Linked DNA regions of Homo sapiens: region 1 is linked to region 2. Evidence: fine-mapped expression QTL. A gene starts in region 2. The other region holds a variant in brackets. All regions are shown on one strand. Distances are between the middles of the regions. Region 1 has its middle 120 kb from the start of CLCN4. Region 2 holds the start of MID1 (midline 1).

Evidence for each region. PIP is the estimated chance that this variant, and not a neighbour inherited with it, causes the effect. A credible set is the group of variants that fine-mapping cannot tell apart.
Region 1: its variant is the best candidate, but not a certain one, in a credible set for the expression of MID1 in cerebellar hemisphere (GTEx, PIP 0.87).

The regions. Positions count from the first base shown.
Region 1 is chrX:10,276,867-10,282,244 of GRCh38, forward strand. No RefSeq gene overlaps it. Among named protein-coding and RNA genes, the nearest start is that of CLCN4, 120 kb to the left of the region's middle. The variant G/T (reference allele first, on the strand shown) is at 3,333.
Region 2 is chrX:10,618,177-10,623,554 of GRCh38, forward strand. MID1 (midline 1) reads right to left here and starts at 2,409. Exons shown (of 10, transcript NM_000381.4): 1 at 2,114-2,409. It overlaps LOC124905245 (a long non-coding RNA gene), which reads left to right and starts at 1,525. Exons shown (of 2, transcript XR_007068391.1): 1 at 1,525-1,664; 2 at 1,971-4,748.

The DNA.
Region 1 (5,378 bases), 340 kb before region 2:
TTAATTGTAATAAAGAAATAAAATAAGAGAAAAACCAGAATTGCAATTCAGAAAGACTTGACTAACTCCCAAAGAGCTAAAATTATGTGAAGACAAAAATACATGTATGATAACAACACAGCTTAGCAAGACTAGCTAACTCCTGTATAACCATTGCCTTCCATACCTTGTCTTTTGTTATCCATAACAAGCTCCTTTCAATCATACCTGAGTTTATACTAATGAGATGACTTATAGGGCAGGAGGGCTAAACAGCTTTGGGATGAGGCTAGTTGACAGAAAAGCTAACCACATGACTAGAGAGTTAGAACTCTCTGCTGCATCCCCAACCCCTGGTTGGGGAAGAGGATCTGGAGATTCAATTCAATCACCAATAGCCAATGAGTGTGTCAATAGTGCTTACATGAAACCTCAGTAAAAACTGGACAATGAGGTTTGGGGGAACTTCCTGGTCGGTGAATATATCAATGTACTGGGAGGGTGGCATGCCTCATCTTTCTGGGAACAGAGGCTTCTGTGCTCAGGGTCCTTCCAGACCTCGCTCTATATACCTCTTTACCTGGCTGTTTGTACCTTTTATAATAAACTGTTGTAACTATAGCACTTTCCTGAGTTGTGTGAGTCATCTTAGCGAATTGTCAAACCCACATGGGGAGCAAGTCATGGGAACTCCTGAATTTGTAATTGGCTGGGCAGAAGTGCAGGGAGCCTGGTGACCCCATTTGTGGCTAGCATCTGAAGTGAGAGCAGTCATGTGGGACTGAGCTCTTTACCTGTGGGGTCTGTGCTAACTCCGGATAGTTAATGTCTCCATTGAATTAAATGGTGGGAAACCCAGTTAGTGCTGGAGAATTGATTGTTGTAAAAATGACATAGTGGTTGACAGGACCATTGGGACGTTCAAAATGAAATCTTTTTCTTTTGGTGAAAGCCTAACTGTGGTTACTCATACACCAAAGGTATAGCAAGCCTTTAACAAAGATCGTCAAACTGGATGGAACACTTAGAAAACTGTAGGATATTGACTGGGTGCAGTGGCTCATGCCTGTAATCTTAGCACTTTGGGAGGCAGAGTTGGGTGAATCGCTTGAGCTCAGGAGTTCAAGAACAGCCTGGGCAGCATGGCAAAACCCCGGCTCAAAAAAAAAAAATTAGCTTGGCGCGGTGGCACGTGCCTGTAGTCCCACTTCAGCTACTTGGGAGCTACTGTAGTCCTCAGCCTCAGCTACTCATGAGACTGAAGTGGGAGGATCGCTTGAGTCTGGGAGGTCGAAGTTGCACTGAGCCATGACTGTGCCACTGTACTCAGGCCTGGGTGACAGAGTGAGACCCTGTCTCAAAAGAGAAAAAAGGGGAAGCTTGTAGGATATTGATAGAGTATCATTATGTCATTGAATTCGATGCATAATTGTACATACATAGACAGAAACATTAGTTCTTCTGATTTCACAGATGAACCAATTGTTGCAACAACGGATTAAAATTGATTAATTCCCTGGTGGGGTACATCCTGTAAATCTATCACAAAAAGGTTCTGTGGCAAAATAATATTCCGTTTTCCTTAAAATATCTTAAATATTCAGACAAATTGGTAAGCATGGCCACTTTTGAATGTGGCAGTGTTGTTATAGAAATAAAAGAAATAGTTGTGGGTGGCGGGGGAGAAAGGTACCCTTCCCTTTGGTGGGTGTTCTCTGAGGGAGAACATCTTCAGGCCCAGTGGACTGTGGTCTGCATGTAACCTGCAGCATGTAGCACATCTCAATGAGATACAAGTTTCTAACACGGGACTCTATCAGGGGCTGGTTTTGGCCCCTGTGGTCTGGGGACTCTTGACTGAGATAAGAAGGCTGCTATTATTTCTGGTGTATTGGTTTCCTACCACTGCTGTAACAGATCACCACAAACTTAGTGGCATGAAACAACACAAATCCATTATCTTATAGTTTTGGAGGTCAGAAGTCTGAAAATGGGACTAAACAGGACTAAAAGCAAGGCGTCGGCAGAACTGGTTCCTTCTGGAGGCTGTAGAGGACAATCTCTTTATTGTCTTTTCCAGCTTCCTTGGCTCATGGCCCTCTTCTAGCCAGAAAAGGCATTGCTCCAAAGTCTCCATCATCACATCTCCTCTTACTCTCCTGCTCTGCTTTCCTGGTATAAGGACCCTTGTGATTATATTGGGTCACCCAGATAATAAGGATAATTTCCACATCTCAAGATCCTTAAGTAAGTCACATCTGTAATCCCATTTGCCATCTGTATTAGTCAGGGGTTTCTAGGGAAACAGAATTAGTAGAGAGAGAGAGAGAGAGAGAGAGAGAGAGAGAGTGTGTGTGTGTGTATGTGTGTGTGTGTGTGTGTGTGTGTATGAAGATTTATATATTACATATGTATATGTATTATATTGGCTCATGAAATTATGGAGATTGAGAAGTCCCATGATGTGCTATCTGCAAGTTGGAGAACCAGGAAAGCTGGTGGTGTAACTCGGCCCAAGTCCAAAGGTCTGAGAACCAGGAGCTCTAATGTCCAAGGGCAGGAGAAAATGGACCAGAGTTCCATCATGAACTCTCATCCATCACGAACTCTCATCCATCACATAGTACCCAGTTCAAGATGAGAGTGAAAGAATTTGCCCTTTCTCCACCTTTTTGTTCAATTTGGGCCCTCAACAGGGTATTCCTTCCTTCTTTTCCTTCCTTTATTCCCCTCACTTCCCTCCTTCCTTTTCTCCTCCTCCTCCTTTCTCTCTTTTCCTCATCTTTTTTCTTCCCTTCTTTCCTTCCTTCTCTTGTCTTTTCTCCCTCCCTCCCTCCTTCCCTCCTTCCTTTTCATAAACATTCAGTGAGTGCCCTTAAAAGTCTTCAGTCCAGCCATCCCAAATCAGTGCAAATATTTTAGAATAGTTAACTCTTCAAGCTGGGGCAATGAAAAGTCAGGCAAAGTCAGTGTTGTCAACTTTACCCTTTTGTAACATGACCAAGTGGCAGGGGATGAGCTGGGCTAAGAATCTGACATCCTGAAAGAGTACTTATCCCTCCACCCACAGCTCTTTGTCTTTGAACCTTTACTCACCTCTTTCTGTACTGGTTAGAATGGGATAGTAATATTATTTTTTAGGGTGGTTGTTAGGGAACAATGTAAAATTCTTAGTAAAAGATGCTGTTGTTTTTTGCCTCAGGCAAAATCTAACCAAGACCTCCCCTTAAACATTGAGAAGACAGAGTAAAGAGTAAAAGTGACTATAAGGGGGTAAGAGTGGCTTTATTTTGTCATTATACTTGACCCCCTGGAAGTACCAAGATGGCCTGGCATGAAGAGGTACTAGCACT[G/T]CCAGGCCCTTTCTAGCAATTACAGGCCTGGTGTTTGTGAGCTCCAACTGGCCCCACACAGATGGCTGCTTGGCATCTGCTGTGAATGTGCACACAGGCTTTTAGTGACACACCCTGTTCGATCTGTGTTTGGAATATGATTTCTGTCGCCAGTCTGTCTGCTTGGAACTATGTGACTTTATGAAAAGCAAAATGAAAACTCCCATTGCTTGAAAAATCACCACCCAGAAATGGCTTTTTTTTTCTGACAGATTAGCTAGAAAAAGGTTTGGTATTAAAGAGAAATAATATGAATAGGACCGTTGGACCCTGTAATATCAGTGGCCGCCATTCTCAATAGCAGTGACATTTGAGGAGGCTCTGCTGTTTGATCTTTTTTCTTCCAGCTTATATTGACTTTTAAAGTCCACCCTACATCTGAAAATGCCAATGGCAAGAAAATGTGACATTAACCTGAAGGTTATAAAATTGAAAGCAGTTCATTAAAAAAAAATGGGGGGGGGGATGCATTTCTTGTGTTTTCTTGAGATTGTCTTCTGGAAAGATGAAGTTTAGATATTGTATAGAGGTGTGCAAAGCACTTATGGATTTCAGGTGAAGGAAATAGTCAAGTTGATTAATAACCCTGCCTCATGAGTGGCAAAAAGGCAAGCTGTATATATCATCCGAGTCACCTGTTTAATTGCTTTCTAAGTGGGGGGTGGGGCTTGTTAAAAATGTAGATCTAGGTCTCTGTCCTTGAGGGTTACAACTCAGTGGGCCTGGGATTGGGCTTGGGAAATTGTATTTTTAAAGCTCCCTGGTGGTTCTGTAGTTTAGCTAGATTTAATACATACTAGACCACACAAGGACATGTGATCCCCTGGGACAAAGCTAAATATTTTTGGCCAAATATCACTGATTGGCAGTTAAACTGGATCAAGAAGGCAGTGAGTTTTTGGAGAAAAGTTAGTGATTCCAGAGAAAAGAAAGCAGCTAGCAATTCTTGAATACTTATTATGGGTCAGTTACTGTTCTAAGTGCTTTACAGAGATTAATCCTCAGCATTTATTTACTTGTTTGTTTACTTATTTCTAGCAAATAAGGAAACCGATACTTACAAAGCTTCTACAACTTGCCAGAGTCACAGTGACAAGTGTTGGAATGATGGTTTGACCCCAAGTGTGTATAACTCCACAGTTCAAAGTCCAAGGGAAAAAGAAAGAAGTTGCTCCCCTCCCAAAAGATATACAATTTTGCTTTGGAAGGAGTTAGATTTATTTACACAAAACTTCTGCAAGGGACTGACAAAAGGACATAAAATTAGTTTGAGTTGCCATTAAAATTCTTATTATGTTTGGGAGGATGAATCTTCTTATCTGTGGTCCAGACAAAGAAGCTTACTTGTAGGGAAAAATTATAATCAGATATTAAACATCTGTGTGATTGATTTTGTTTGGTTGACACCAAAGGCCAGTGTATTTATTTATTTGGGTATAGCTTTAAATGTAATAAATTGATGTTTTAAATATAATACTAGCTGTATAATTTTATTTTGCTTTGTTAGCTTATGCTAGCCCAATAAAATCTGACAATTGAACAAAAGACTCTCCTTGGGGTGATAGTTTCATTGTCATAAAAATGTCATATAGATTAAGGGGCCAGCTGAGCCCTTATAGTTTCTCAGAGACTAGAGAAATCATTAAGAAATGCATATATTATTTCCAAGGTAAAATACTGGCCGAGTCCTGCCGTAATGTTTTTTTTAATGTGAATTTGCCAAACATAAAGCCATGAATTTTCCTAATTCTCAGAAATCATCTTCCAAAAGGCCTACATGTGGCTGCTTTGCCTCCTAGATTCTATCCCAGCAGAAAGCACCTCCCTCCATGGATGTACTTCTTCTGGGCAAGTCCTTGTCATGGTTCCAGCTCCCTCCAGGCTGCCCCAGCTCCTGGGCTCTGGCTGTACCACCTCCTTTGATCCTCCAGTCCTAAAGAAGGAATGACTTTCTACTAAAGCTCAGACCTTGTCGTAGTCTGTTTTGCATGGCTATAAAGGAATACC
Region 2 (5,378 bases):
TCAGCAAAGAGATCCAATTTCATTGCTGAGCTGATGACACACAGGTCTGTTTGATAGTTAACCCTGTAAATCCAGCTGGAGCTGCCGGGCTGAGATGACAAATTGGCTGGTGAATTCGACTCACCCTGCCTGGATGCAACAGTCAGGTTTCCCCAAGAGAAACTCAAATAAAGTAGGGATTAACCCATGCCAATAACACTGCCATCTCATTCCTCCCTACATTCTTGTTCTGACTGCAGTGGAACAACATGCTAGATTCTGGAAACTGTCCTCGTTCTTTGGATGAACAATGATCCTGTCTCTCTCCTTCATCTCCTCCCCTGTTCCATCCCACCCTCTTTCAAAGTTCTGAACAGGCCAAAAAAATTAGTAGACATACGTAGCTGTGAGATGAAAAGTTGCCCATTCATTAAATAACTAAGGAGTTCACTATATGTGTACTTGTACCCCTAAAATTTCAATACTGGGCTGTTTTCCAACTTCACGTAAATGCCACAACAAACTAGGCATGGGAAAAACCATTCCAAGCTGGGGGAAGCAAACCTTAGGCATAAGGCACGGAGACTGCCATGGTTCCTGAGGAATTGTGTGGGAACAGGGATTCTGGAAATTGAGCTCAGACACCACCGAGGAGAGGACAGGTGGCTCTGCACAGGATCAAATAACTTCTTTGTTCCAGCTAAGGACCTTTGTCAAAAATGTTTTGCGTTCCTCTTTTTCCTTTTCAATCCTTTCCAATTACCCTTCTCCTTCCTTTTCCTCATCCCACTTTAGTAGACATTAAAAGTATGAGGTTGGACTGTGAGTTTGCAGAACTTAAAGACGTCCTCCCCACAGTCCCTACCAAGGCAAGGGCAATTCATTGCAAGCAGACGGCACTTGCTCCTCCGCAAGTGTTTTTCTGCACTCACTGAAACTTGCCAAGCCTGCTTGCTGAGCGAACAAGCGAGGGGGCAAGAAGGCGGAGGGTTTGCGCTGACCATTCGAAGGGGGCTCTGCTTCATCTCCCAAGGCTGTGGGAAAGGGACAGAAAGTTCGAAACCCCTCCCCTGCGCTCTTAAATGGAAAGCTCACTTCCCCCAAAGTGTGCAGGGTGGCGAGCACCCAACCCACTTAGAAGAAAAAGTGAAGAGCTTTTCCGGTTGCGATACAGATGCTAACTTTCCCATCCAGATTTATTCAGAGCTGGTAAAAGCAATAGCATTCCTCTTGAAATCCCTGCCCTTCCAAGCCTATTGGCATGTTTTTCCAGCCTTGTTTTCTCCTTATATGAGTATTGTTCTTGATATTTAAATATTGACATAAAATTCTTCCATAACTTTGATTGAGTTGTAAATCACACCCTCTCCTTGGCTTCCTACATCCACTTTTTCTTTCCTTTTCTTGCTTAACAGCAAAGCTATAAACCTCTTCCTGGACTGATAAGGAATTTTATCATCATGCCCCAGAGCCACAGAAGAAGCTGTTGGTTTAGAATTCTTTTCAAAGACTCATTTAAGTAATCCCCCAGCCCTTTCTCCGCTCACTACTTTCAGGGCTGCCTTCTCACGTCCAGAAGCAATACAGTTTCCAAACTGCTAGAACAGAAAAACAAATTTGCATTTTTCTGGAAGGACTGTCTGTGCTCATTTCAAGCTGGTTCCGCCTTCTCCGCCAGAAACACAGTAAGTGCTCAGAATGCGAAACCAAAATGAGATAAGAGGCCCCGTGAAATTCTTTTTCAGGACATTCAGCTGTCTTTATTCTAGCCCAAAGCATAGGGTAGAGGCACTAAAAGCTCGAGATACATCCTGCACGATACATTCCAGCGGCCGCAAACTGGAATTGATTTACATATATTCTACAAACTGCTTGTAAGCCCTTTACAACGACTGCCTGACATCAACCACAATTAGAGGCAAAAGTGGGGGCGGGTGGCGAGGACCAGACCGGGGTGGCTCAGGTAAAATGTGCTTCTTTGGTTGTCTTAGGAAAATGCAGCCCCGTCTTTCCGCCAAACGCATCGACTACGGCCAGGCGCCTGCTAACCCAGCAAGCTCTCCGCAGTAACACGTCGCAGGGGTCCCGGGCGGCGCCCGCCCCCTCCGCCGCCAGCGCAACCGCCTGAGCTTACCTGCCTCATGTTTAGAATCCCATGACCCATCCGGCAGGGAGCGAGCTGCATCGGAGCCCGCGTCGCAGTCTTCAGAGCGGAAACACCGAACCCGACAGGAGCCCGCAAGACAAAAGCAACCCGGCGAAATCTACGGGCAGCAAAGAGCACGTTTTCGTCCTCTTTTTCTTTGATCTGTTGCTACACGCACTCTGCTCGAGACAATGTCAAGTTTCTCAACCTTTTCTCCCCCAGCCTATGAAAAGTCGGTCGCAGGGAAGCGAGGACCGCCTGGCTCTTATTTCAAATCAGTTCTCAGAGACGTTGTAGGTGGCTGGCTTGGGCCGCGGAGGAGCTTCGCCAATCAGAAGCAAGGGGGTGGGTCCTGGGAGCCAGAAAGGCTGCCTCCGCGAGGATTAGGGGCGCTTTCGGGATTCAAATGACTGGAAGCAGCTGGAAACAATGTCCAAAGCTCCAAAAGTAAAGGATGAGTTCTATTCTTATCTAACAGCTCTAGTTCTGCTAAAAGCTTAACTAGCTAAGGGCCTTAAATCCTTGCATTTTAAGAGCTCCCTAACAGCATTAAAACATTTGGAAGGTGCAAAATTATTTCAGCCAGAAAAGTTCAACACTCAGGACCCAAGGGTATTTTTAAAAGGATATCTTGCACTGAAGCCCTACTTTTGCAAAAGACTGGAAAGGAAACCAAATTGTTATGAGTAACACCTTAACTAAAACGAACAATCCAGAAAGGAGGGTGTTACCTACCTCATCTGCATATAGATTAACTGTATATTCAATTTAAGAAAAATAAATCTTAATGGGAACGTGCACACAATTTTTTTGAAATGCAGCAAATGAACAAGAATCTTTACCTACTGAAGGCCCGAGGCATAATTTCAAATAACACTATTGTCATAGAACAATACACACTGACATTTTGTTCAGAAAAAAAAAAATTTAGTGCATCCACCTTTCTCTATGGTTTGGCTTCCCTACAGGGTTGATCTGTTGAACTTATTAACAGGGACAAGCTGGACATCACCTTGGCAGGATTGCAGGAGAGCTGGAGAAGTAGTTGGCTTCTTAGAAACAAACTCAGACCAAAAAAAATTTCCAAAGTTTGCTTTCTTAACTCCATATAAGCAATAACTTTTTTCAACTCTTAGCCAACATGATTTTAATGTAAATCTACCTTCTGGATTTCAAGAAAGTGCAAGTTGAGCAAAGAGTACTTTGTGTAGAACTAATGGCATATTTTCCCCCAAGAAATGACCGCAATTTTGTGACGATAATTCAATAAAGATTTTAAATGTGTTGGTATCAGAGGAAAAAAAATTACTTAGCAAATAATGCATTGGTGGCTTCAGGAGTGTCAGCTGCATGGGTTCAATACATGTGAGCTCTGCCCAGTTCTGTGAAAATTTGGTGGTCCGATAACTGGGCCTGGAAGCCCATAACGCTAGCCCCCTGCCTGAGTAGCCTAAGGAGCCACCTAGTGACACAAACTGACTTCAGTCCACTTCTTGTACTTTTCCTTGAGAGCCCTTCATATGATGGAGTTCAGGATTTCTCAATCTCAGCACTATTGACATTTTGGGCAGGATAATTCTTTGTCGTGAGGGCTGTCCTGTGCACTGTAAGATGTGTAGCAGCATCCCTGGATTCTGCACACTAGATGCCAGTAGCACCCCCACAATCGTGATGACCAATAATGTCTCCAGACATTACCAAATGTCTCCTGGGTGATGAAATCACGCTTTGAAAGGGTGGTTCTTAAACTTGAGGGTGCAAGGAAACCTCTGGGGAGATTGTTAAAAATGCAAATCTCCAGGCCCCTGCACCAAAATAATCTGATTCAGTAGGTTTGCTGAGGAGCCTGAGAATCAGCATTTTATCCCACTGACAAAGGACTCTGATTTACTTTGAGAAATATTGCGTCTATCCCAGCCCTAGGTATGCCCCAGCCACAGGACACAGGAAGCTACCCAGGGCTCCTGCCATTAAATACTGGAGCTTAATCCCATGGCACATCTGTTTATCACCTTCAGTAGAAGCTACAACTGCGTCTGCCTTCTGCTTTCATCACCTCAAAGGTAAATATGAGCTGGGATTTCCTCTCTCAAGGACTGAGCCCTTTTAATGTTCCTTCCATTTTTATTCTCCTTTGACTCACTCACCAACTATCCAACAATCTCAAATGTCACCACTCATTCGTGATTTCCCCAAATGCCCCAAGAAAAATTAATCCCTTCCATCTTCTATGCCCTTAAAGCAAAATACCCTTATAAAAGAGGTTTCAGAGAGCCTATTTGCCCCTTCTGCCATGTGAGGACACAGCAACAAGGAGCCACTGATGAAGCAGAGAGCCCTCGCCAGACACCAAATCTGCTGGCACCTTGATCTTGGATTTACCTGCCTCCAGAACTACGAGAAATAATTGTCTGTTGTTTATAAATGACCCAGTCTAAGGTACAGTATTTTGTTATAGCAGCCTGAACTAACACAGTGCCATAAAATATGCTGCCTCCATGTTTCAGAAAACCTCTAAAAAAAATGAAAGGTGGGGATACACAAAGTCTTTTTCATTTACAAATAAACAAATGGAAATGTTTAAAATTCTGAATGAAATAAATGGTCCTTTGGAGAATGTTCATTGAGTGAGGATTTGATCCACCTATTAGAAACAGTGAGGCCCGGTGAGGTGGCTCACACCTGTAATCCTAGAACTTTTGAAGGCCGAGGAGGGCGGATGATCGCTTGAGCTCAGGAGTTTGAGACCAGCCTGGGCAACATGGTGAAATGCTGTCTCTACAAAAAAAAAAAAAAAAAAATAGCTGGGCATGGTGGTGTGTGCCTGTAGTCTCAGGTACTTGGGGAGCTAAGACAGGAGGATCACTTGAACCCAGGAGGTCGAGGCTGCAGTGAGCCTAGGTTGTGCCACTGCACTCCAGCCTGGGCGACAAATAAGACCCCGAAAAAAAAGAAAAAAAAATAAAGAAAGGAAAGAAAGAAAGAAAAGAAAGAGAGAAAGAAAGAAGGAAGGAAGGAAGGAAGGAAGGAAGGAAGGGAAAAAGAAAAGAAAGGTGAAGTGAGTAAAAGAGCTTGCTCTACCAAACGAACAGATGTTCTGTTCCCAAATCTGTGATTAAACATGTTTGCAAATATTAGCTGAAGGGATGTTGGAAGTTTTGAAAGCTCTTCTTCAAAAAAAGCAGCCTAGTCGATAATCTTGTTAGTTATGTGCGGGTTTGGTTATTAACAGACCTTGTAGCAAACCTAACAT